Linked DNA regions of Homo sapiens. The protein of the gene in region 1 purifies or fractionates together with the protein of each later gene. This does not show direct contact. Each region holds a gene or a part of one and is shown in the gene's direction. Other genes may lie near its edges.

The links.
Region 2: the proteins of NUP62CL (region 1) and NUP88 purify together in Homo sapiens (affinity purification with mass spectrometry; 2 studies listed by BioGRID and IntAct, with this or other methods). This does not show direct contact.

What each region holds. Positions count from the first base shown.
Region 1 is NC_000023.11:107,147,399-107,154,433, reverse strand, and holds part of NUP62CL (nucleoporin-62 C-terminal-like protein), read left to right. Parts: intron 1-187; coding exon 188-338; intron 339-930; coding exon 931-980; intron 981-1,127; coding exon 1,128-1,262; intron 1,263-6,624; coding exon 6,625-6,649; 3' UTR 6,650-6,691; intron 6,692-7,035.
Region 2 is NC_000017.11:5,384,328-5,388,692, reverse strand, and holds the end of NUP88 (nuclear pore complex protein Nup88), read left to right. Parts: intron 1-740; coding exon of another isoform or gene 741-788; coding exon 789-914; intron 915-1,022; coding exon 1,023-1,088; intron 1,089-1,226; coding exon 1,227-1,307; intron 1,308-1,582; coding exon 1,583-1,709; intron 1,710-1,866; coding exon 1,867-1,985; intron 1,986-2,352; exon of another isoform or gene 2,353-2,423; coding exon 2,424-2,487; 3' UTR 2,488-3,860; downstream 3,861-4,365. UniProt on the Homo sapiens protein: Component of nuclear pore complex.

The sequences.
Region 1 (7,035 bases):
AAGTGACTTTGAGGGGTTGTTTTTTTTAATCATCTTTACCAGTTATGTTTGTTTTCTTGGGAAGCAGGTATGGGAAATTCCTTACATGCTGTTTTCTTCTCAGAGTCCTCCTGTGTTCGTTTTTAAAATCTGATCACACTTTTTAAAGTATGATTATTGGATCATCCTGCATCTTTTTATGTTTTAGTGTAGTAGCAACTCCTGTGATGACATATGGTCATCTGGAGGGTCTTATAAATGAGTGGAACCTTGAGCTGGAAGATCAAGAGAAGTACTTTCTTCTCCAGGCCACTCAGGTCAATGCTTGGGACCATACATTGATTGAGAATGGTGAGATGGTAAGAAAATATTTTCATTAATCTACCTACATTGTGCAAGTATTTGCAGATGAACACAAGAAAATAGACCTGTGTTTTGTGGTTTTCTTTGTTGTTGTTGTTTTGTTTATGTTTTTGTTTTTTGAGACAGGGTCTTGCTCTATCACCTAGGCTGGAGCACAGTGGTGCAATTACAGCTCACTGCAGCCTCGATCTCCCTGGCTCAAGCAATTCTCCCACCTCAGCCTCCTAAGTAGCTGGGACCACAGGGGCACACCAGCACCCCCAGCTAACTGTGTGTGTGTTTTTTCAGTAGGGATAGGGTCCCACTGCGTTGTCCAGTCTGGTCTCAAACTCCTAGGCTCAAGTGATCCTCCTGCCTCAGCCTCCCAAAGTGCTGGGATTATAGGCATGAGCCACCATACCCAGCCCTGTGGTTAATTTTCTATTCCAATATTGGTGAGCAGCTCAAAGTATATTCCTTAGGCAATAAGTACCCTGAATAAAAGGAAATCTTTCATATTTGAAGTGTATTTGAGAAAATTAATATTGCTCTAAAATTGTTATATAAATTCAAATACTTATATTGTTGTATTCATATTTCTCTTTATAGATTCGTATTTTACATGGAGAAGTGAACAAAGTGAAACTGGATCAGAAAAGGTAGAACCTTAGATTTCCTTGGTTGAAAGATTAAAGACCTATCTTTTTATTCAGTGTTTTTTTTTTCCTTCTGTAGTTTGTTAACTCTTTTCTTTTTGTCACTCCAAATTCCTTTCATCAGCCTTTTTATTAACTTATTTTATTCAGATTGGAACAAGAATTGGATTTTATCCTGTCACAGCAGCAGGAACTAGAATTTCTGTTGACTTATTTAGAGGAGTCTACGCGTGACCAGAGTGGACTTCATTATCTGCAGGATGCAGATGAGGAGCATGTGGAGATGTAAGTAACTGAAAAAAGATTGAAGAATGGGGCAGGACTTACGTATTCTGAGAGCATTCCAGGAACAGAGGGGAAAAGTCGAATTGGAAGGCAAGGAATACAAATCGGTAGAAAGGGACAAGCTTTTGTAGTTGACATTTATCAATTTGTTTGATTGTTTTCTGGTTATCTTTTCTGGATGCTTGTAAATGAGGAAATCATTCTGGCAATTTTGTTTTATAGCATTTTGTTTACTGTTATTACTGTCAACCTTATGCATGTTCACTGTAAAGTTTTTGTATTTGTCAAATTTGTTCTTAAATTAGAAGTACAAATTTTATGTGTATGGTGTCATGGTATTGTGGGATATTTATGGTCTCCTCTTTATGTTGATTCTGCTAAAACTAATAGTCATGCAATTGCTTTAGTGATAAATCATTTGCTATTTTAAAGGCAATTTGTTAATCTGGAGGCAAACTGTATAGCTTTCAAAAATGGAGTGATTTTGTCAATGTCTTAGGAGGGCTATATTTTATTTGTGAACTCTTCAGTCTTTACCTTCTGTCAATACAGTGCCAGTATTCCCAAAGTAACTTTATTTCTCTGGAACTGAGGTTTGGTAATTGGCCAATTTATTAAGTATTAGAATTTGTATGAATGAACAACATAATCTAGATTGAGACTAAATTGGACACATTTTATCAATGACTTATTATGAGTTAAGACTGGGCCTGTTTTTAACATGCTTGCAAGTTAACTTTTTTGTAGGCGCATTAAATGTGGTAAGTACAACTAATCTATACTAACCTAAATCAGTTTCTGCTTTTGTATTTCAACCTTTGTGAATTTTTCTTTTCTTTGTATTGCTTTCTATGCATTCTATCATTTTTTTGAAACATATAGAGTTACATTTTTGGCCATAAGATCCTAACTGTAGTTTGAAGAAATCTTCATGACATTAGTTCCTTTCCAGTTGCTCCTTTGTAGTCATATATATATATATATCTGAATATATATATATCTGAATATATATATATATATCTGAATATATATATATCTGAATATATATATATATCTGAATATATATATATATCTGAATATATATATATATATCTGAATATATATATATATATATATATATATCTGAATATATATATATATTCAAGATGAAGTCTTGCTCTGTCGCCCAGGCTGGAATGCAGTGGCACGATCTCGGCTCACTGCAACCTCTGCCTCCTGGGTTCAAGCGATTCTTCTGCCTCAGCGTCCTGAGTAGCTGGGATTACAGGCATGCGCCACCACACCCAGCTAATTTTTTGTATTTTTAGTAGGGACCGGGTTTCACCATGTTGGCCAGGCTGGTCTCGAACTCCTGACTTCATGATCCACTCCCCTCGGGCTCCCAAAGTGCTGGGATTACAGGCATGAGCCACCGCGCCCGGCCCAGATTTGTATTGTGATGAAATATTTACCAGAATCTTCAATAATGTAGGCAACCAATTCTATGGCATAAGTACTATGCCATAGAAAGGCAGTAGATAGTTGTTACCTACAAATCTAATTGACTCTTTCAATCTTTATACACATTAAGGTTGAAAAATCCTCTGGCCACTTTAATTCTCATAAACATATTTATTGACTGGGTCGTGTGTGTGTGTGTGTGTGTGTGTGTGTGTGGTTTGGGTGGAAATCTCGAGAATTTAGGCAACTAACTTGTGAACTTAGCAGGTTTGTCTATCTTTGATTATTGTGAAGCTCATTTCTCAAAACATCTTTTTTGCCTGATGAAGTATATTTATATGAGGTTTTATTTTGAAAATTTGTGTATTCAAGATCATTGAAGACATCTCAGCATCTATTGAATATTGCCAAACCCTAAATAACTTCTCTTTTGTATGTAAATGTGCTATAGGTGTATTTTGACACCTTAAAGGATTCCTTTGCTCTACAGATCCCCAGGGTATTCACCTAGAGGATAAATAGGTGAAGGTAAAAAGGCAAGGTAGATAAAAGTCTTCTCATTTGGAGTCTTTTTAGAACATGGTAATAATAACGTCACAAATGCTGCATCCATGAAAATATATCAGTAGTCATAACTGAGCTCCACTGAAAAGACAGGGGAATTAGGGCAAATCCAATTGGTAGTGTCATGTTTATATATCAATAACAATAGGTAGTGGAGAAAACACTTTTTGTTAATCCCTTTATTTTACTTGCCTTTTCAGTTACAGATTAGCAGAAAGTATAGATGCTCAGCTGAAACAAATGGCCCAAGATCTCAAGGACGTTGTTAATCACCTGAATACATTTGAAAGTTCTTCTGACACTACTGATCCGGTGTGTTTACTGCTTTGTGTACTTAGGCAACCAAGATTTAGTATGAAATTAGCATACAGCCAGGTATGGTGGCTCATGCCTATAACCCCAGCACTTCGGTAGGCCGAGGCAAGAGAACTGTTTTAGGCCAAGAGTTTGAGACCAGCCTGGGCAACATAGTGAGACCCTGTCTCTATCAAAAATGAAAAAATCTATCTGGGCATGGTGGTACATACCTATAGTCCTACCTACTCTGGAGGCTGAGGTGAGAGGATCACTTGAGCCCAGGAGTTGAAAGCTGCAGTGAGCTATGCTTGCACCACTGTGCTCTAGCCTGGGTGACAGAGTGAGATCCTGTCTCTAGAAAGAAATTAGCATTCTGTGGTTCTTTTAAGCTAGTCCCTTTTTTCCGTCTTCTATAGTGTTTCTTCCTGCCTCTAGAAATATGAAGCCCCTTGGGTGTGGTTAGTGGAGCAGGAAACATCTAGAGGCAGAAAAGGTTGTGAGTTTTTTGTGGTTATTCCCAGGAAGGTGAAAATATTACTCTTCCCTAAGTTGTCATGCTTTTCTCCCTTATTCTTCACATAACTAAGTATGTACCTGTATTTATTTTTCTGTTCACTTACTAGCCAGTTCATTCTTCTTTTTACATATTTGTTTACATACTTATATAAGTGTTAGTAGGTATGCTTGTGTCTGTTCAACACAACCAGGCAATCCTTAATTTATGGTTAGATTGTATTTTAAAATTTGTTAGGTTGACTATTTGAGACTTTACATTTTTCTATAGAAACTTGGTGAAATATGGTTATTAGGTTTACACCTGCCCCCACAGAATACTATTTAGCTCATAATAAATGTATTATATCAGTGGAATTACAGCTGAGGCTCCAATTAGAGTTAAGGTGCTGTGAATTAATTTGGCAGTAAGAAAGAATTGTTTTTTTTTTCTTTCTCTATACTCTGATTAAACAGCTTATTTCCTGTACCTTTCCCTGTTGTCTTAGCAGCTAAATGGAGTCCTCCTTTTCCCGCTCCCACTCTGTGGCAGTAGTAGTAAGAGGGATCTCCCATTGTGGGAGTTCCCATTGTGCTTTCTATCAGTTAATCATAATCAGGAGTGAGGCCAGGATCGGGTAGGTGAAGATGAATGACATATATGTAAGTGGTGATTATTCTTTAGTAAGCTCTTTGTTCAATTATATACAGACAGTTCTTTATCTACATACACATTACCATTTTTTAAATTATGAAGATACAGTGTGTTATAGCTGAGAAAGTATTAGAATTTTGTTTAAGTCATTTAATCTCTCTGGGTCTTGGCTCCTTCTTTTTGCAAAATGTCAAGGATAGACTAAATGATCTGTAGGTCCCTTCCCGCTATAAAAATTATGCCATTCTGTACTTTGGGTGAATCTAAAGTTGAACAAAGACAAATATAAATTAATCTGAAATTATTCATGCTACCATGTCCCTGTGTTCACACAAATGATCAAGAGTTTACAAAATACAGATTTTCTCTTAATGAAATATTAGATTACCATTGTAATTCCAAAATTCAAAATTGTTTTGTTGTAATAGAATTTTGGTGCATAGGTAAATATATGCAGATTTAGACATTCAGCAGAGTTGATTTCTAGTTTCTCTGTGTTGAATTAATATAAGTGGAGTGTTCTCAATCAAGTAACTAAAAGGAGACTATAATTCTGTCTTTGTCCATTTTCTCTACTTAGCCCTGGATTGTTTTATTTTATTTTAGTAGTGGGTAGTAAATGGTTTGAGTCTTTTTGTTTTCCTGGCAGGGGTGATTGGGATGTTTAAGATGAGTCAATTAAAGGGTAATTGCTGTTTGATTGCAGAATAAAAGAAGAAAGAGATCACTGACAGCTCTTTTTGCAGATAGCATAAATCCTTGGACAAGAAACGGGAAAAACATTTTCTGAACAATAATATTCCTGTAGATAATTTATTTTAACCGGATTAACAAAGCTTTATTACTCTGGGTCATATACTAGGGTAGAAAAATAGGAGCTATGTGTTCCAGTATTCACGGTGATGAGATTTATCTATTTTTATTCCCCCTTTTTTTGTGAGCGGCAATGGGAAAGACCACCTAATGTCTAAAAGTTTTATTAAGTAAGTTCATATTATGCACTGTGTTATTCAGTCACATTTTCTTACAAAATCCATAAGGAAAATTAAGTCATCTATATTAACAGTACCCTGATAATATACTGGTGTATTTCTTTCTAGTCTTTTTTGCTATGCTGCTAAAAATACTTCTTTTGTATTAAAGAGTACTGGAAACTATATAACTTTTTGTATTCTATCTTCACTTAATATTCTTTCATGGTCTTTCCCAAAAATTTTAACCATTCTTTGAAAACATGAGTTTTAATGGTACTATAATGTTTCATCAGGGTTGACTTTACCATGATCTATTTAATCATTTTTTGATTGGTAGAGATATTGTTTCCAATCTTTAGCCAATATAAAATAGTCCAGTAATCACCACTTATATTTAGATTTGATTATCTCCTCTGGATAACGGAAATAGAATATACTGACTGAGTCAAAAGGTATGAATATTTTAAAGCTTTTGATATGTATCATAAAAATTTACATTTTGAAAGGTTGGGTCAATTTATATTACTATTGGCTATATATGAATGTAACTATTTTTTCCCACACACTCGATAACTGAGTAAGACCATTTTTAAAAAATTGCTGATTTGGTTGACAACTGGTGCTATTTTTAATTTTTTTATGTGAATTCATTGTCTTGTGAAATGTGTCTTAATGTTCTTTATACTGTGGTAGTCAGTTTCTTATTGAATTGTAGGTATCCAATTCATGATAGTTACAAATAATTAAATTGAACCAATATATAAAGATAATGAACATTGCAAATATGAATTAGCAACAAAAAAATTAGTATTTAGTAATTCTCAGTCCATTTCTTACCAGAAGAAATTAAAAGTCACTTCCTAATGTCAATTTCTTATGTTTATTTTTTATTTACCACCTCAGAATAATCATAATCTAAAAGTCTTATATGTATTTTTAGCTCCACCAGATCTGCAGAATTCTGAATGCCCATATGGACTCCCTGCAGTGGATTGATCGGAATTCAGGTGGGAGTTTGCTTGTATGCCACTCTGTGTATTTATTGCAAGTAGAAAACGTGATACATGTCAGTTGTATGCTCCATGACCAAACTCATATAAAAGCTGTTGTATGGGTGTTGCTTAACGCACAGTATGTGTATTATAGTTCTGAAAAACTGTAATTCCTTATTTTTTTAAATGAAGTACACATGGGATAAACTAGAAATTAATGAAAATAGAGGATGGATAGGAATGGGGCACATAGAATTGGGATAGAAGCAAGACTTCTATGAATATGCCTTTTTACACAGTTTTGACTTGGGGGCCATATAAATGTTTTACATACCAAAAAATTAGAATTAAGTCAAAAA
Region 2 (4,365 bases), on another chromosome or scaffold:
ATTTGGAAGAAACTGGATATATTTGATCAGCTAGTGAATGGGGAGCAGGAGGGAAGTGGCACCTGAGAATGATAAACAGGAAGTGTTTAAAAAGAAGTTAGGCTAGGCCGGGCGTGGTGGCTCACACCTGTAATCTCAGCACTTTGGGAGACCAAGACGGGTGAATCGCGAGGTCAGGAGATCGAGACCATCCTGGCTAACACAGCAAAACCCCATCTCTACTAAAAATACAAAAAAAAATTAGCTGGGTGTGGTGGCAGATGCCTGTAATCCCAGCTACTTGGGAGGCTGAGGCAGGAGAACCGCTTGAACCTGGGAGGCAGAGGTTGCAGTGAGCTGAGATCCCACCACTGCACTCCAGCCTGGGCGACAGTGAGACTCGTCTCAAGTTAGGCTGGGCACGGTGGCTTACAGCTGTAATCCCAGCACTTTGGGAGGCCCAGGCAGGCGGATCACCTAAGGTCAGGAGTTCAAAACCAGCCCGGCCAACATGGTGAAACCCTGTCTCTACTAAAAATGCAATAATTAGCCAGGCGTGGTGGTGGGCACCTGTAATCCCAGCTACTCGAGAGGCTGAGGCAGAAGAATTGCTCGAACCTGGGAGGTGGAGGTTGCAGTGAGCCGAGATAGCACCAATGCACTCCAGCCTGGGTGACAGAGCGAGACTGCATCTCAAATAAATAAATTAAAAATATAAAAAGTTTAAAAAGCACCTGTGACTTGAGTCTATTTATTTTCAGTTGTTTTACTCAGCTAAGGAAAATAAAGGTAGAAACTTTGTTTTTAAGAGCTTCTGAAAAGGACATAGCCCCTCCTCCTGAAGAATGCCTTCAGCTCCTCAGCAGAGCCACCCAGGTGTTCAGAGAGCAGTACATTCTCAAACAGGACTTGGCAAAGGAGGAGATTCAGCGGAGGTATGATGTCCTGTGTTCACAAACCATCGATCCCTGGCTGGTAGCTGATGCTGTATGGTAGCCTAGACCTGGCTTCTGAATAAACTCTATTTCTTTTTGTTTTTAAAGGGTCAAATTATTATGTGACCAAAAAAAGAAACAACTAGAAGATCTCAGTTATTGTCGAGAAGAGAGGTAAGTGTCAAAAATAAGAAGAATACAATAGGTCAGTAAGACTGGAACCATATTCTCACCCTAAGATGCTGAGCCACATTAGGTGGTTTCAGCATCAAGGGGTGGACCTCAAGAGTCTCTTGTGTCTTACATCATTAGGAAAAGTCTGCGGGAAATGGCTGAGCGTTTAGCTGACAAATATGAGGAAGCTAAAGAAAAACAAGAGGATATCATGAACAGGTCAGTGGGCTGTATAACATTTAGTTACCTAGTCAGGTACTAACAACGATATTTAAGAAAATGGGCATTGGCAGGTGCTTACATACCTACGGAACTGAACTGATCCCCCTGCCTCTCCTCTGAAGTATATGTTGGGGAAAACATGAGGCTCTCCCCTAACCCTTCCTATGGGGCCTACTTCAGAAACACCAGATTCATGAATTATGAGCTTGTGATTATGTTTCTCCTAATTAGTAGAGACCTTAAATTGAGATGTTTGCTTGCCTTTTCTAAAGGATGAAAAAACTACTTCACAGTTTTCACTCTGAGCTCCCAGTTCTCTCTGATAGTGAGCGAGACATGAAGAAAGAATTACAGCTGATACCTGATCAACTTCGACATTTGGGCAATGCCATCAAACAGGTAGGAATAGATCCAAACTAGCTAAATTTGGTAATTTTTCTTAAAGCACTTATTCTACAGAAAATTTTACAAAAATGTAAAAAGAACAGATTCAAATAGATACTGTGAAAATGTGTGGCAAACCACTGCCAAAATATCTATTATTTTAATACTTAAGGTTACTATGAAAAAGGATTATCAACAGCAAAAGATGGAGAAGGTGTTGAGTCTTCCAAAACCCACCATTATTCTCAGTGCCTACCAGCGAAAGTGCATTCAGTCCATCCTGAAAGAGGAGTAAGTAAATACTTCCAATCAGCTATTATCGTGAGATAGTTTTTCCTTTACAGTATGCCAGAATCAACCTGTCTTAATAGAAACCTGAATCTTGGTATTTGCATGTCAAGTAATTACTGGGATGAGAGCCACATGATACATAGGGACTTAAGAAATGACTATGGTGGGAGGATTGAAAGGGATGACCTTCTAGTAACATGATTTTGTTGTGTGGCCAAAGGTATTTTACAGTAATTATGTTCAAAAATATTTCCAGTACTTGCACCGTTTGCCACCTTAAATGAATAGTGAACACTATTGCTATCCACCTGAAACCTTCAGCTGTTAATTTTAGCAAAGCAGTTCTTAGATGTTTCAACATTACCAGTTTAAATTCTTAAGAATCCATATAAATGGTTTATTATAATTCCAAAAGTGAGTGACTTTACAATTTTACAGGGGTGAACATATAAGGGAAATGGTGAAGCAAATCAATGATATCCGCAATCATGTAAACTTCTGACACCACCAGGAGCTGACTCACACCTGAACTGAACACCATTGAAGGCTTAAACCCATATTGTAAAACAGGTAGAATTATCTAATTTATAAAAAGGTGTTTTGATGACCTTTGGTGTGGTTCATCTTTTTAAATATGTTGTTTTATAATAATTGAGTAAATGCTTTTATTTAAAATTTGGAATGTGCTTTATAACTCAAGCCTACAGTTGTGTTCAGCAAGGACTCAGGATTATTTCACACTGCACACTGCCAGAACCTCCCTGAACCCTATTGAGTTTTCTCCATATTTGAGCAAGTTAGTTATTCTTGTGAGCTGTGTTTTAAAGTAGCAGCACCAGAAACATGACTCTGAAGAGGGATAGAACCCTAGGATTCAAAGGAGAAGACCACACAGTGTACTTGGCAGCAGCTTTTTTAATTTGAACACTTTCTTCTTGAGGACACACCTTCAGTACAGTTAACAAATGGTTACACCTGAAATCTGCTGAGAGCAGAGCTCAAGATCCACAATTGCAAAGGCCACTGCTGGCTCACTTCCTCACAAGCTGTATTACCTTTCAGAGCTGAGTGAGGCTGTGCTCTACGTCCCAATACTTGTTACTGAGTGGACATGAGGTGCAAGTTTAGCACCTTAAAGGGAGAAAAAAATAGGTTAGTATGCAGAATGTGATTTTGTCCTCACTTCACCTTAAGTCATCTTTTTACACTTGCCAATGTGAGTTCTGAAAGGTACTACTATATCTGCTTAGAAATGGCTGAGTGACTGTCAATTAAAAGCCACATGATAAGGTAGGTTACAGGTAAGAGGTAAATCAGGTTAGACATGCATGAGAACATGTAGGCACAGACTGAATATAAGCACAGGAACACTCGTGAAACCCAACTGAGCTTTTCTTTTGCCTAGAAGGGCTAAATCCTGCCTTCTACATCAGTTCCCATTTATGCTGAAAACCCAGTTGAAAGAATTGTTTCCTACCTGGACAGTGACACAGTAGTTTGTTTCATACCAGAAACACATTGCTAAACAAAACTTAAGAGTCTCAGTTTGGGTTTTTCTACAATAAAGTGAATTCCAACAGTTGGCATTTGCCACAGTAGAGACCACTAACCATTCCCTAATTGTGATGATTTTATTACCCAGCACCATCTTCTGGAGAAAAATATCTGTAAGGTGCTCAGTCTCAGCAGAACACTTCACTGCAAGCTCTAGTTCAGTCAGTTCAGAAAGGCTGTGAATTGCCCACCCTGATTTACAGCACTAATTTTAATAATCTGAAGACAAATTCGCTTGGGGCTTATCCAAGGGACTAGTCTTAAACCTACGTAATTTAAATTGATTGCATTTTATAATTAATAAAATCCCCTGTAACTCAATAGTTATATGTTTCCTTTATCTAAACCATGTAGCACTCTTTATAAAGGGACTTTAAACCAATTAAAATAATGTTTCATGTGCGGCAAGCCTTTAGTACTATTTCCATAATTGGTATTTATTTTTAAATTCATAACCATGAATGCAAGACTACAATAATAACCCAAGAGATGAGGTATGTAGTACTTATCATTTGTCCTATGGAAGACAGAAGTACAGAAGATCTTTAGGGTAAGTCCATAGTGACCTCATTTATAACAAAGACAATTCACTTTAAGTTGATGGTGGCGTTATGTGAACAAAACAATCTACCTAGTTCACTAACTCCCAGAAGGCTCTTTCAGGTACCCTGCTGTTATGCAACCAGTCTCAAAAATGATTTGAAAACCATCTTACTTTTGAACCTCCTGGATGATGAATCCATCCACTGGATATTCCTGGGACAGTACTCTCAGCAGGTATTGATGAACATGAATCAATTCTTTGTGCTTTCTGTAGCACTTCATA